Linked DNA regions of Homo sapiens: region 2 is linked to region 1. The links come from fine-mapping of genetic effects on gene expression. Tissue or cell type: whole blood. Region 1 holds a variant in brackets; the other region holds the start of a gene. All regions are shown on one strand. Distances are between the middles of the regions.

What was found. PIP is the estimated chance that this variant, and not a neighbour inherited with it, causes the effect.
Region 2: MIB2 starts here. The variant in region 1 is fine-mapped to the expression of MIB2 in whole blood (INTERVAL, PIP above 0.99).

The regions. Positions count from the first base shown.
Region 1 is chr1:1,645,063-1,653,062 of GRCh38, reverse strand. It overlaps CDK11B (cyclin dependent kinase 11B), which reads left to right. Exons shown (of 20, transcript NM_033486.3): 4 at 497-624; 5 at 3,426-3,564; 6 at 7,801-7,937. Among named protein-coding and RNA genes, the nearest start is that of CDK11B, 9.9 kb to the left of the region's middle. The variant C/T (reference allele first, on the strand shown) is at 4,327.
Region 2 is chr1:1,612,451-1,620,450 of GRCh38, reverse strand. It overlaps MIB2 (MIB E3 ubiquitin protein ligase 2), which reads right to left and starts at 4,951. Exons shown (of 20, transcript NM_001170687.4): 1 at 4,818-4,951; 2 at 3,837-3,943. RefSeq lists silencers at 4,017-4,106, 4,137-5,186 and an enhancer at 5,287-5,456.

The DNA of each region.
Region 1 (8,000 bases):
GGGCAACAGAGCGAGACTCCGTCTCAAAAAAATAAATACAGGCCGGGCGCAGTGGCTCACGCCTGTAATCCCAGCACTTTGGGAGACCGAGGTGGGCGGATCATGAGGTCAGGAGACCAAGACCATCCTGGCTAACATGGTAAAACCCCGTCTCTACTAAAAATACAAAAATTAGCCAGCGTGGCGGCGGGCGCCTGTAGTCCCAGCTACTCGGGAGGCTGAGGCAAGAGAATGGCATGAACCCGGAGGGTGGAGATTGCAGTGAGCCGAGATCGTGCCACTATAGCCCGGGCAACAGAGCGAGACTGTCTAAAAAAAAGAAAAAAAGAAAAAAAAGATGCCTAAAGTTGGAGAATTAATGTAATTTTTTAAATGATGTTTCAGCTTTGTTCCTGTCTGAATCATGCATTTTTCTGGGTTGAAGAAACCTTATAATAGCCTGATGCTTCTTTGCACTTTCTCAAGCATGATGCAGTGCTGTTGTGTTTTATTTCAGAGGAGAAGAAGATGATTCTTTGGCCATCAAACCACCCCAGCAAATGTCTCGGAAAGAAAAAGCTCATCACAGAAAAGATGAAAAGAGAAAAGAGAAACGTAGGCATCGTAGCCATTCAGCAGAAGGGGGTACAGAAGCATTTACTTTCTTTGACATCATGTTCAAGTGTGGTTTCTTTCCTGTTCCTACTCTTCTGCCTTCCCCAGAGCACCACTGAAAAACCAGAGAAAGCAAACTCTAGCTGAAAGCATACGTGTGTCACAGACCGTTCAGAATGGCTATAGAGAGAATACTCTAGCTAAAAGCATGCGTGCGTCACAGACCGAAAACCAGAGAGAGCAAACTCTAGCTGAAAGCATGCGTGTGTCACAGACCGAAAACCAGAAAGAGCAAACTCTAGCTGAAAGCGTGCGTGTGTCACAGACCATTCAGAATGGCTATAGAGAGAATAGCTGAAAGCATGCATGTGTCACAGACCGTTCAGAAGGGCTATGAGAGCAAACTAACTAAAAGCATGCGTGTGTCACAGACCAAAAACCAGAGAGAGCAAACTCTAGCTGAAAGCACGCGTGTGTCACAGACCATTCAGAAGGGCTATACAGAGCAAACTCTAGCTAAAAGCATGTGTGTGTCACAGACTAAAAACCAGAGAGAGCAAACTCTAGCTGAAAGCATGCATGTGTCACAGACCATTCAGAAGGGCTATACAGAGCAAACTCTAGCTAAAAGCATGCGTGTGTCACAGACCAAAAACCAGAGAGAGCAAACTCTAGCTGAAAGCGTGCGTGTGTTACAGACCATTCAGAAGGGCTATAGAGAGAATACTCTATCTGAAAGCATGCGTGTGTCACAGACCATTCAGAGGGGCTATAGAGAGCAAACTCCAGCTGAAAGCATGCGTGTGTCACAGACCGTTCAGAAGGGCTATACAGAGCAAACTCTAGCTAAAAGCATGCATGTGTCCCAGACCGAAAACCAGAGAGAGCAAACTCCAGCTGAAAGCATGCGTGTGTCACAGACCATTCAGAAGGGCTATAGAGAGAGTACTCTAGCTGAAAGCGTGCATGTGTCACAGACCATTCAGAGGGGCTATAGAGTACTCTAGCTGAAAGCATGCGTGTGTCACAGACCGTTCAGAGGGGCTACAGAGAGCAAACTCCAGCTGAAAGCATGCGTGTATCACAGACCGAAAACCAGAGAGAGCAAACTCTAGCTGAAAGCGTGCGTGTGTCACAGACCATTCAGAATGGCTAGTCCATTTTTCCTCTGGGGTTTTCTCTCCCCCATTATATTGTTTGGAAGCAGTTTGTTTACATTTAAAATGACCTGAATTCAACAAGTATAGGAGAAAAACACACCCCAAAATGGGTATTTGCTCAAGTCCAAAGAATGGGTTTGGCTTGAGCAGTTTGATCTCGTACCAACATCAGGAGGTTCTTACGGGTGTTAGGAAAATTGGACCTGGAGCCCGATTGAAATGTCATGATTATAAATACACTTGATTAATTAATGTGGCTTCATTGCACAGTGGAGAAGCCCACTGATAGCAAAGCTTTGTTCTGTAGTCTTTGTGAAGAGTGATTTTTGTATTATAAAACTGATAATTATAGTTTATTCAGTATGGAAAAGTTTTAAAAGACGAATATTACAATTCTGCTCTTCTGTGATAGCAGAATTGTTTTTCTTTTTTCTTCTTTCTTCATAATTAGACGCTTACTGCAGATAGTTTTTTATTTTCAAAGTTTTTTATTTAACATAAAATCATGATTATTCGGCTGGGTGCAGTGGCCCAGGCCTGTAATCCCAGCACTTTGGAGGATCAATTGAGTCCGGGAGTTCAAGACCAGCCTGGCCAATATAGCGAGACCCTGTCTCTTTAAAAAAAAAAAAAAAAAAAAAAAAGGCCGGGCGCGGTGGCTCACAACTGTAATCCCCACACTTTGGGAGGCCGAGGCCGGCAGATCACGAGGTCAGAACATCAAGACCATCCTGGCTAACATGGTGGAACCCCGTCTCTACTAAAAAGACAAAAAATTAGCCGGGCGTGGTGGCAGGCGCCTGTAGTACCAGCTACTCGGGAGGCTGAGGCAGGAGAATGGTGTGAACACGGGAGGCGGAGCTTGCAGTGAGCCGAGATTGCGCCACTGCACTCCAGCCTGGGCGACAGAGCAAGACTCCATCTCCAAAAAAAAAAAAGAAAAAAAAGAAAAATTAGGATTACTTAACGTTAACATCATTATTTAAATATTTATTTAAATATTTACTGTTCTTGATTTAATTTCTTTTTTTTTTTTTTTTGGGACGGAGTCTTGCTTGTCACCCAGGCTGGAGTACAGTGGCGCAATCTCAGCTCACTGCAAATTCCATCTCCTGGGTTCACGCTATTCTCCCGCCTCAGCCTCCCGAGTAGCTGGGACTACAGGTGCCCGCCACCACACCCAGCTAATTTTTTGTATTTTTAGTAGAGATGGGGTTTCACCGTGTTAGCCAGGATGGTCCCGATCTGACCTTGTGATCCGCCCACCTCGGCCTCCCAGAGTGCTGGAATTACAGGCGTGAGCCACCGCGCCCGGTCTTAATTTCAGTTTCACGTGGGTTTTTTTTTTTTTTTTGCCCAGGCTGTAGTGCAGTGGCGTGATCTCGGCTCACTGCAACCTCCGCCTCCCGGGTTCAAGCAATTCTTCTGCCTCAGCCTCGCTTAGTAGCTGGGATTACAGGTGCCTGCCACCACGCCCAGCTAATTTTTGTATTTTTAGTAGAGACGGGGTTTCACCATGTTGGCCAGGATGGCCTTGAACTCCTGACCTCAGGTGATCCGCCCGCCTCAGCCTCCCAAAGTGCTAGGATTACAGGCATAAGCCTCCGTGCCCGGCTTCATGTGAAATTTTTGAAGTGAGGTTTCTTTGCATGACACTTTATTTCTCATTAGGGAAGCATGCTAGAGTGAAAGAAAAAGAAAGAGAGCACGAACGTCGGAAACGGCATCGAGAAGAACAGGATAAAGCTCGCCGGGAATGGGAAAGACAGAAGAGAAGGGAGATGGCAAGGGAGCATTCCAGGAGAGAAAGGTGAGTCGGCTGGGTCAGTTGAGGACTTTATAAAAGGGCTGTGGTAGTGTGTCCCATCCTAGAAATGAAGAAGAATTTGGCAATAGAAGTCACATCTGAGCCAGGTGTGGTGGCTCACGCCTGTAATCCCAGCACTTTGGGAGGCCGAGGTGGGCGGATCATGAGGTGAGGAGATGGAGACCATCCTGGCTGACATGGTGAAACCCCGTCTCTACTAAAAAAATACAAAAAATTAGCTGGGCATGGTGGCGGGCACCTGTAGTCCCAGCTACTTGGGAGGCTGAGGCAGGAGAATGGCGTGAACCCGGAAGGTGGAGCTTGCATTGAGCTGAGATCCCGCCACTGCACTCCAGCCTGGGCGACAGAGCGAGACTCCGTCTCAAAAAAAAAAGAAGAAGTCACATTTGGTGCAGAAGTGGTAGACATGGAAACAGCACAGTGAACGCTGGACGAGGCTGACCAAGAGAACTGTCCTGAGGGAGTGAGTTTTCACTGCATCTGGAAGTAAGAACGGGTGTGATTTGATTGAGGGAAGACAATGAAGGGATCAGAAATCTGCATGTCCGGCCGGGCGCGGTGGCTCATGCCTGTAATCCTAGCACTTTAGGAGGCTGAGGTGGTTGGATCCCTTGAGCCTGGAGGTCAAGGCTGCAGTAAGCTATGACCATGCTATTGCACTCCAGCCTGGTTGACAGAGTGAGACTGTCTCAAAAAAAGGAGAAGGGAGATCCTAAAAACCTTGAAACAGTCTGGAATTCGGGA[C/T]CCTGGACTCCCAGGACTCCTGGCCATTAGTTTATATATTCGTTCCCCTTTATGAGCCAGATTCCCAAGAAAGAACATCGGTGTAGCCCCAGATCTGTTCCGTGAACCAGGAAAAAGGCTGTAGGCCAGGTGGGAGCAGGCCCATCTCCGCCTTCAGAGTGAGTCCACAGAAAGCTTGCAAGCTGCTCCAGGAAGAGAGGAGTCTGAAGCGGAAGGGCAGCGATGTTTGCCAGCAGCCAGGGCTGGGTACACAGCATGTAAAGATGATGAGAGGGCGCTGGTTCTTGTTGATGCCGAAGGGTGTGGGAGACACTGAGGCCCAGGGGTCAAGGTCCGAGACCGCTGCGGGGTGAGCAAGGTTTCAGTTGGCCTAGTTCCTGTTAGTGTGTGAAACATTCATGTATGCCACACCCTGTGCCAGACATTGAGTGTGTCTTGTCCCACGAGAGTACAGCTTGGGATAGAAGTGGAGGTTGGTAGATGAAATTTGGGCTGTCATATTGATTTCCCAGAAGGTAAAGACAGGAGAGTGAATGAGCAAAAATTGTTGGGGGCAGACTTCTGGGTAGGGCCGATTCAGATCAGCCAATCCAGAACTGGGTATGGTAGCATATGCTACGTGGGAGGCTAAGGCCAGAGGACCGCATGACGCCAGCCTGGGCAACGTAGGGAGACCTTGTCTCTGACAAAAAGGAAACTGATAAGGATAATCTGAGAAGCACTGATGCTTGGAAAACTGCTGAGCTGTGGGTGAAAGCAGTAAGAATCTGACCTTCTGGCCTGAGAGCTGCTCCCTTTACTGCTTCCACTCTGCACTTGGGAAGCACGGAGGTTCCACTGGGACAGGGCAGCTGCAGGACCTGCAGTTTCCTTGCTGCCTTGGAAGGGGTTACTCCGTTTAGAGCAGTGGGCAGTGGCCTTGCCCACCAGCATCCTCAGTGGAGGGAGGAAGAAAAGGCCAAGAGGTCTGCTAGAATGAAGTACAGTGTGGTTGGGAGCAGCTGTGATCTCGCCAAAGACGTGCAGCAGAGACTGGAGAGAGCTCGAGCCGCCACCCACTTGTGACCAGCCCTGAGGATGCAGCTGCGTGAAAGGACCTGGCAGAAAATAGAAGCCGCCACAGATGCGAATGACGCGTGAACGTTCAGTGTGCTCCCTGTCCACACACAGCCGTGGGCCAAGGAAGCCTTACTGTGCTCGAGGTATTTGAGCCCAGCCTTTTTCCAGTGCTGGCTAATTGCTAAGCTGTGCAGCCATGGTGGTGACCCCTAGGAAGCCAAGGTTGAAAATTAAAATAGGCATGTGGGAAGGAACGGGGTGGCCACGAGCTGTGAGGGAGATGGATTTCACGGACAACCAGACAGGCCTCGGTGGTAACAACGAAAGGGAAAACTTAGAATCCAGAATTGCTACAAATGTATTATCTAAAATACAAAGAAGTATGACAGTGTGACCCATACTGAGGAAGAACATCATCAGTAAAAACTGTCTGAGTGTCCAGATGTTGAATTTAGTAAAGGCTTGGAAACAACTTGTGGATGGAGCAGTAGAAATTATCCATTCTGAAGAACAGAGAGAAAAAAACAAGAAAAATGCACAGAGCCTCAGAAACCCGTGGTACAACATCTGCTGTACCAAAGCACGTCGAATGGGGGTTCCAGGAGAGAGGAAAGATATTTGTTACAATAATGGTTAAAAACTTTCCAAATTTTAATTAAAAAATATGCACATTCAAGAGCACAGGAAGTTTGAACTAGAATAAATGCAAAGTCACATCATAGTCAAACTGGCAAAGGCCAAAGAGAAAATGTTGAAAGGCCTCAGAGAAGAATGACCCATCCCATGAAAGGGGAGCTTCAATACCGCCAGCCACTGACTTCTTAGAAACAATGGAGGCCAGAAGGCAGTGGAGTGGCATACTCAAGCTGCTCAGAGAGAAGAACCATCAGCCAGGAATCAAAACCGTTCTACACAAGTGAAAGGGAACGAACGACATTCCCTGAGAAGCAGAGACTGGTGGGATTCATTGTTGGCGAAACCTGCCTTAAAGGAAATACTAAAGGAAGACCTTCAAGTTGAATAGAAATGACACCAGACGGTAACTTGAATCCTCAGGAAGGAAGGACAGGCACTGCAGATAGCAAGTGTAGGTTGACGTCAATATCCTGTAACTATCTCTCCTCACATCTTAGGTTTTACTGGAACTACGATTGTATAAAATAATTACACTGTTGTCATGGTATGTGGCATAAATGGACTGCACAAAGAAGACAGGGAATAAAGCTGTGTTACAACAGTTTTATATTGTACTGGACTTGAGCTAGTATCATGAGGCATACGGTGATCCCTAGAGCAACCACTAAGAAAGTTGTTTTCTTAGTGTTTTAAAAAGTACAAATAAATTAAAATGGTATGCTAAACATATGTAATTTAAAATCAAAAAGGGAAGAATAAAAAAGACACAACAAAGCAAGGAAAGTAAATCCAACTGTACGTGTAATTATATGACATGTGAAAGGTCTCTGTGCCCCAAACAGACAGGGCAGATTATCAGATAGAAAAACAAGATCTAACTGTATGCTGTCTGCTAGAGAACAGGAAAAGACGCAGCGTACAAACATCAGCTGTCATAGGAGAGCTTGAATGGCTGTACTCATACCAGACAAAACAGATGTTAAGAAATATTAGAAACCAGCCTGGCCAACATGGTGAAACCCTGTCTCTACAAAAATCACCTGGGTGTGGTGGCGCACACCTGTAATCCCAGCTACTCGGGAGGCTCAGGTATGAGAATCACTTGAACTCGTGAGATGGAGGTTGCAGTGAGCCGAGATTGCGCCACTGCACTCCAGCCTGGGTGACAAACCAAGACCCTGTCTCAAAAAAAAGCTAGAAACAAGAAGGAGCAAGGACTTCACAGCCAGAAACAGGCCAATACAGCAGGAAGATACAGCAATGATACGTGTGAATGCATCTAACCACAGAGCCCAAAATCCATGAAGCAAACACCGATCGAATGGAAAGAAATGGATCATTTATTAATTAGAATTGGAAATGGCAGCTGGGCACGGTGGCTCGGGCCTGTAAACCCAGCACTTTGAAAAGCGGAGGCAGGCGGATCACGAGGTCAGGAGATTGAGACCATCCTGGCTAACATGGTGAAACCCTCGTCTCTACTAAAAATACAAAAATTAGCTGGGAGTACAGGGCGCACGCCTGTAATCCCAGCTACTCGGGAGGCTGAGGCAGGAGAATCGCTCGAACCCGGGAGGCGGAGGTTGCAGTGAGCCGAGATCGCGCCACCGCACTCCAGCCTGGGGGACAGATGAAGACTCCGTCTCAAAGAAAATAAAATAAAAAAATGAAAAAAAAACTTCACGGATTGAATTACGTAGAAAGCCAGTTTACAAATGTGGACAAAAACGCGATAAGCAAGCTTCTGTTTAGGGGGAATGATGGCGTGTGCCTCTTCAGGGACCGCTTGGAGCAGTTAGAAAGGAAGCGGGAGCGGGAGCGCAAGATGCGGGAGCAGCAGAAGGAGCAGCGGGAGCAGAAGGAGCGCGAGCGGCGGGCAGAGGAGCGGCGCAAGGAGCGGGAGGCCCGCAGGGAAGGTAGGCGGCGCGGTGGGCAGCTGTGCTCGGCGGGACGCGTGTCTGCTGCCCCCTGGTGCTGGG
Region 2 (8,000 bases), 33 kb after region 1:
GCCAAACACCTCCACTTAGCCAGAGCAGGGCTCATCACAGGCAGCCGCAGAACCGACTGGAGGTCTTTGCTAGTAGGGGACACGCATCTGCCGACCCCCGAGATGGGCCCGGCAATGGAGATGAAGGACTTGGGACCGCAAAAAAGCCAATGCCATGAGCCCACACTGTGATCCTTCTGCAGCAGGGGGCGCCTTCTGTCTCTGCGCCCAGACTCTCAGCCACAGCCAGCTTAGCCCAGGCCAGCGGCCACACCTGCCCGACCCGCTGGCCATATGCCATTGGACCTTTCCAAAAAGACAGGGGCAGGGTGCCCCATGTGTGAGCCAATGTGTCCTGTGCTTTGGCAAATCTTGCCCTTGGGGGGATGGGCAGAGGGCAGAGATGTCGGGGAGGTCACCAGCAGGGCCTCTGGGAATCAAGACCAAGCCTTGGCGGCCCCCGCGTCACAGGGGCAGTGGGGTGGAGTGCCAAGGCCATCAGCCTGAGACAGGGTAGCCTGTGCCCCAGACTGGCACCTGTCTGCAGCATGCCCGGTATTTTTAGCACAGCCAGGCAGCTCTCCAGCCCTGGCCCACAAACCCCCACCCTCCCAGAGGCTGTCCCTCATGGAAGCCCACCTGAGTTGGGGCACAACTGGGCTGAACACAGGCAGGGCTTCCTCCCTGGCCTCACTTCTTGTGCCTGGAACCAGCCCCCCACTTGCTGAGGGCTGCCCCAACAAGGGGGACGAGCCTGGACAGGGGAGCTGGGTGCGCCCACCCACTCCCACCTCTCCCCGGGGGCTGGGATGTGAGCACACAGGGGCCTGTAGACCCGGCGCCTCCTCAAGGCCTCCCCTGCAGGGCCCCCACCCCAAGGGTCTGGGGTCTGTCCCACTTCCAAGGCAGTCCCTTCTGTCCAGCATGGCACTGCCCTGGAGTGGCCGCCTCATCTGAGCGGGGTCTCCAGCCATGCCTGCCCGCCTGCCAACCCTTCTGCGGTGCCAGTGTGCAGACAGACCACATGCGCGTGGATCCCAGGCTCAGGAGCTCAGTATCCTGGACCCTCTGGAGGGGCCAGCAGTTTTGGTTTTTTTGAGACGTAATCTCGCTCTGTCGCCCAGGCTGGAGCGCAGTGGCGCAATCTCAGCTCACTGCAAGCTCCGCCTCCCAAGTTCACGCCATTCTCCTACCTCAGCCTCCCGAGTAGCTGGGACTACAGGCGTCTGCCACCACACCTGGCTCATTTTTTCTATTTTTTAGTAGAGACGGGGGTTTCACCGTGTTAGCCAGGATGGTCTCGATCTCCTGACCTCGTGATCCGCCCGCCTCGGCCTCCCAAAGTGCTGGGATTCCAGGTGTGAGCCACTGTGCCCGGCCGCCAGCAGCTTTTGAGGCTCTGCCGCCTTTCTCCTCAGCTCCTTCCTGCAGCTGCCTGCCTGGCTTTCTCACCATTGCCCCAGGGCCAGCAGTCACCCAAGACCTGCCACTGGGCTCCTGGCACCCTGGCCCCAGGGCTCAGTACCTGCCTCCGAAGGCCTCTCTAGGGGGTGTTTGTGGTGGGGGCAGGAGGCAGTAATGAGACCCCCACAGGCAGGGAGGAGGGGCACCCCGCCAGGACCCAGCACTTGTATCCCTTGGTCTCTTCTCAAAGGGGACAGAGTGCACCTGCTTAGGGGCGGGAGGATCCAGCCCAGCATCGAGGGGCCTGCCCCATTCCCATTGTTCATGAGAGGTGGGGGCTGTGGGGTCGCACAAGCAGCCTGCCCATGTCAGAGGGAAGCTTGTGGACAAAAGGGCTCATCCCTTGGGCTTCCCTGACCATCCTGTCCTCCTGGGGCCATGGGACAGGTTCTGGGCTGGGTCTGGGTCAAGCTGACCCCGAGGGTACTGGCCACAGGACCCATCCCCTGGGCAGGCCTGGGAGCAGGTGATGTGGGGCTGGCGCTTGGCACACCCGCTGCAGACCTCAGGTGAGGACTTCCTGGAGGCAGGTGAGGAACACCAGATTAGGGGTAGGAGTGGGGTGGGCAGCCTGGAAATCAAGCCCTCTAGGACAGATGTTCCCCCAAGGGCCCCTCACTCCCTCTGCCTCCACCCTGGACCTGTCCAGCATCCATTCCTTCCTGGAGAGCAGGAGGCCTCTGGGTTGCCCCCTCCTATTTTTCTGTTCTACACCCACAAGGCTCCAGGTGCAGAGGAGGGGACCCGTGGGACCTGATCACCCTGATCACCTGCCCACAGCGGGTGAGCTCTGGGCCAGAGGCTGCTATGGGAAGTGCAGATGTCCAAGGCTAGCCCTGCCCTCACACCAACCTGGCCAAGGTTTCCCAGAAAGACAAACCAGAGACAGCCACAGCCACAGCCCAGCACTGGTGGAGGGGCTCCAGGGAGCAGACCAGCAGACCAGAGCTGTGGCCACGCAGCCCCTGGTGTACATCGTGGCGTACATGGCTGTGGCCACTCCTGCTCCTCCTCTTGGAAACATACAGCCCAGGCTTCCGCTTCAGGATGCTGCCCCACAATGGGTATCTTCATCTCAGTCAGAAATTTACTCAGAGAGTTACCAAATGTTTTTTCCTTTGCCAGAAATGCTAGACTTTGCCATCTACCCACAGTTCACAGGCTGTGCCCCTGGCTGGCATCTGAACCCCGCTGCAGGCAACTGCTCCCGATGTTTAAAATGATGGAGGCAGTCAGGGTGTGAAGACTCGGGCGACAGATCGACAGATGTGCTTTGGCAAATCGGAACTTACCTCAGAGCACACACCAGCCTCGAGGCAGCGTCCCAGGCATTTAATTGCTACTTCCTGGGTCACAGATTCGCTCGGCTACCAGGCTTTCCTGTTGGAAGCTAAAGCCACTGGAGACACAACACAGCAAACCAGACGGGCAGCCAGCAAGCCAGGCTGGAGAAAATGGTTTCTAAAGGCAGTGTCACACATTTAGCATTTACCGTCTTAACCACGCAAGCAGACACCGGGTCTGTTCTATTGCTGCTTAGTTTCTCTTTTTCACAAGAAACTGCAAGCTCTCAGAGGGCAGGAGGACTTCCGAACCATCAGTCAGGAGAGTGTAGGAGGAGAGAGTTCCCTTATTGCAAGTATTTTATCGGAGAAGCTTTAAAAGCCATAGAAACCAAATCCTATTTAGCGAGAAAGTTAGCAAATTGCCTTTATTCAGAAGAAGCAAGTTACATGGAACTGGACATGAGGCTGCCCTCCTCCTTGCACCTCCAGCTGTGCCTAATGACACCGAAATGCCGCTGTGTGTGGCACGCCACAGGCCATGGAGTAGCTCCAGCTAACGCAGATGGACATCCCAGGTGCCCCAGGGAGATCAGGCCCACGGAGTGGGATGAAGCCCTGAGGCGGGGAGGCCAGCATGGAGACACCTGCTGAGGGAAAGCCCACGAGCGCTGCGGCCACCTCCAATCCTGCCCATCTGGGTGGAGACCTACAGGCACCCTGCAGGCTGGGGTGTCATCCCACTCACCGCCCAGGGCTGCCCTCGGCCAGGAGAGCGCCACATTCAGACACTTGTTGCATGTGAGGCAACAGGCCAGGGTGGAACCGGACAAAGGGGGCCTCCCGGGAAGGGCCAGGCTTGCCGGCGCTCCTGCGCTGCGGCCGCTCTGCCCCAATCCTGCAGGTGCCTATCAGAGGCCTGTCTGGCACCTCTGCTTTCTTCCTCCATGGGTTCCGAACTCAGAGAGGAGACGCGGGATTACTCACCACTCCCCTCCACTCGCATGCATGCTCAGACACAAACACAGCCTCTCTGACGTGGCTTCCACGGAGCCCCAAAGTGGGAGAGCCAAGTGCAAACTATCAGGCCGCGGACGATCAAGAGCTCACCTGTCCGGCCGTCCAGTCGCCCGCCGGGCCGCCTTGAGGCTCCTGGGCTGCAGCCCTGATGCCTGGAAACTTTGGGACTGGCCTCTAGCCTCGCTGGGCTTCCAACCCTGTGGCCGAGGGGAGATGCCAAGATGCACAGTTAGCACCTCGACCCGCGGCTCGGTCGCCTGTCTGCCCCCGGGGCTGCCCGCCGGCTCCAGGTCCACTCGGGCCCACGGCCGCGACACTCAGGGCCGCCGCCTGCCCGGATGGGCTCCCTGGGGTCTGAGCGCGCAGGAGCCGCCAGCGCCGGGCCCGTAATTGCGTGCGCCCGGGGTCTGGCGGCCGCGGCTCGCAGACGTCAGGAGGCTCCGGGACGCGCACGGGCGCCGGCGCAGGGGAACGGGCGGGCCAGGGGCGGGCACGGCGGGCACCCCCACCCGGAGCGCGCCCCGCCCCCTGTCATTCGTGCCCGTGGCTCGCGGAGGCCGCCCGGCCCTGTCCGCTGCCAGACCTTGCCAGGGCCGCGCAGTACCTGCCGACCCCAACTTGCCCGGACGTTTCCGTCCCGCCCGCTCCGCTCGGGGGCGCGGGACCGCCGGCCAGTCCGTCTGTCGGTCTGTCCCGGCGTTCGAGGCCACCCACCGGCCCCGACTGCTCAGCGGCGGCCAGGCCAGGCCAGAGCGCCTGCCGCGCGCCGCAGCCCACCCGGCCCGGACGACGACCCCAGCGCCGACCCCAGCGCCGCTGGCCCCGGGCCGCGCGAGGCCTGCCGGGAGCTGGAGTCCCGCGCGGGTGGCCGGACCACAACTCCCAGGAGGCCCCGCGGCGGCGCTGCGCGCGCAGCCCCAGCCCATCCCGTGCGGACCCTACGCCGAGTCCAGCCCGGGGCTGCTGGGCCAGCGGGAGCGGGAACCGGACGGCGCTCGCGTTCTGCCAGAGCGGAGAACGACTCGGGGACGGTGCGGAGGACCAGGGGAGGAGATCCGCGCCCGCACGCACCATCAGCCGAGAGGACGGCCCGCATCGCGCCAGTGACCTAGGAGCGACTCGGGGACGGCTTCGGGCTCCCAGGCCCTCCTGGGCCACCGGGCACTGAGGAGAGCGGCGGCTGGAAACTGTGGGACCCGAAGGGCGGGAGCCCAGGGCCCGCCCCCGCCGGAGCGCCCCCGCCATGGCCACGCCCCCGCCACGGGGATGGGCAGGGCAAGCACCGGAAGTGCGTCACGCGGGAGCGTCTGCGTCGCCTACCCTGCGTGGCGCAGCTAGGTTCCGAGCGGCTTAGCCTCCGGGCGCCTGCGCAGTGGCGGTCCTAGAGACGCACTCGGTTGCCATAGAGACGGGGGCTTGGGAGCGACGTCGCGCTCGCTGGCACTGGCGGCACTTGCCGCGCCGCAGCCACCTCTTTCCGACTCCACCAGTGCGGGCCCTATCCGGGGTTTTGAGTCACGCAGACCTGGACACAGCGAGAAACGGCAGTCCGGGCCCGTCCTCCCGCCCCGGGTTCTGCACCCCAGAGTTGGACGCTTGCTTCTCGCTTTCTCCTGAGAGAAGTCTCCGCGTTTCTGAACAATGCACTGCTAGTTTCTCATTTCTTTCTTTCTTTCTTTTTTTTTTTTTGGAGACGGAGCCTCGCCCTGTCGCCCAGGCTGGAGTGCAATGGCGCGATCTCGGCTCATTGCAACCTCCGCCTCCAGGGCTTAAACTATTCTCTTGCTTCAGCCTCCCGAGCAGCTGGGACTACAGGCATGCGCTACCACGCACAGCTAATTTTTGCATTTTTAGTCAAGACGGGGTTTCACCATTTTGGCCAGGCTGATTTCGAACTCCTGACCTCGTGATCTGCCCTCCTAGGGCTCCCAACGTGCTGGGATTATAGGCGTGAGCCACCGCGCCCGGCCTCTCATTTCTTAATTGTAGACATTGCGTACTTCCGGAGAAGGTCCCTGAGAACCTGGCTGATCTTCCCCGCTGCACCCCTCACGTGGTCCTGTTAGCTCCCAAACTGTCAACCTGAAAGGAAACCCAGAGGCAGGCTCTCCAGGACAAGTGAGTTAATCTGGGAATCGCAGGGGGTTGCAGCCTAGGCTGTTCGTGCCATGACAGATCATAGGCCTATCTGAGAGGGCCGGGCGAAGGGGAAAATACAGATGAGCTCACAAAAGTTGTTTTGTAACAAAAACCACTGGCTGTGGGCGCTTGCTGCAGGAGTGGGCGTTAGCTTGTTGTTGGAGAGAGCCTTACCAGGCCGACGTCCTTGTGCAAGCTGCTTATCTAGAATACTGCAGTCCTGAGGAATTTCCCTGCAGTAAGTCCGGTTACAGGCAAACGTGCAGGACGTGCAGGAGCGTCTTGTGAGGAGGCCTGCTGCAGGTATTCCTGCATGAGAGCTCCCCCTTCGTGGCCTCCCGACTCCATTTGTTTAGGGATTGGTGGAAGTAGTTCCATTTTGGTACCTGCAACTTTCACAGCTGTCGTGATGAAATCAGGCTTAGCTCTTCATGATTGAGTACCTGCTGTTCACTGCTACAGTATAAAACCATGCCACAATTCCTGTACAATCTTTTTTTTTCTTTTGAGTTAATAATTACCTAATATTTTCACATATCTAGCTTTTTACTAACCCATGGCCAGCCTTTTTTTCAAGTACCCCAACGTTTTCGCCACATGCCTAACGATACCGTTTTCCAAAGGCTCAAACACATCCGTTGTGTCTAACTGATTCTCCTGTTCCGACCTAGACCGATCACTTCCTGACCCGGCTGCACAGCTCTTATCTCGAGCTTTTCTCTGCTCTCATCCTTGAGACTCACTTTGTCTGTCTCCTTTCTTGGATTCCCTGTGTAAACGAAAAATAAAATCCTAAGCTCTCTACCAACTGTTTTTTGTTTTGTTTTGTATTTGAGACAGGGTCTTGCTCTGTTGCCCAGGCTGGAGTGCAGTGGCACTATCTTGGTTGACTGCAGCCTCTGCTTCCTGGATTCAAGTGATCCTCCCACCTCAGCCTCCTGAGTAGCTAGGACCACAGACATGCACCACCATGCCGGTTATTTTTAAATTTTTAGTAGAGACAGGGTGTCACCATGTTGCCCAGGCTGGTCTCAAACTCCTGGGCTATGCTGTTTGCTCACCTCTGCCTTCTGAAGTGCTGGGATTGGCTGGGTGCGATGGCTTCACGCCTGTAATCCCAGCAGTTTGGGAGGCTGAGGAGGGCAGATCACTTGAGGTCAGGAGTTCATGACCAACCTGACCAACATGGTGAAGCCCTGTCTCTACTAAAAATACAAAAATACAAAAAAAAAAAATATTAGCCAGGCATGGTGGTGCACGCCTGTAGTCCCAGCTACTTGGGAGGCTGAGGCAGGAGAATTGCTTGAGCCCAGGAGGTGGAGGTTGCAGTGAGCTGAGATCGTGACACTGCACTCCAGCCTGGGGAACAGAGCAAGAATCCGTCTCAAAAAAAAAAAAAAAAAAAGCCAGACGCGGTGGCTCATGCCTGCAATCCCAGCACTTTGGGAGGCCAAGGCAGGCAGATCATGAGGTCATAAGATCGAGACCAGCCTGGCCAACATGGTGAAACCCCGTCTCTACTAAAAATACAAAAATTAGCTGGGTGTGGTGGTGGGCACCTGTAATCCCAGCTACTTGGGAGGCTGAGCCAGGAGAATGGCTTGAACCCAGGAATCGGAGGTTACAGTGAGCCAAGATCATGCCACCGTACGCCAGCCTGGTGACAGAGGAAGACTCTGTCTCAAAAAAAAAAAAAAAGAAAAAAAACCAGCCAGGCACAGTGGCTCACGCCTGTAATCCCAACACTTTGTGAGGCCAAGGTGGGAGGATCACCTGTGGCCAGGAGTTGGAGACCAGCCTTGCCAACATGGCAAAACCCCATCTCTACTAAAAATACAAAAATTAGCCGGGCTTGGTGGTGCTCGCCTGTAGTCCCAGCTACTTGGGAGGCTGAGGTGGGAGAATTGCTTGAACCCAGGAGGCAGAGGTTGCAGTGAGCCAAGATCTGGCCACTGCACTCCAGCCTGGGTGACAGAGTGAGACTCCGTCTCAAAAACAAAAAAAACAAAAAAAAAAAAAGAAAAGAAAAAGAAAAAACAAAAGTGCTGGGATGTGAGCCACCACACCCAGCCAGCCCTCCACCAACTGAACAGATTCCCTTTTGACCAAGGGGAC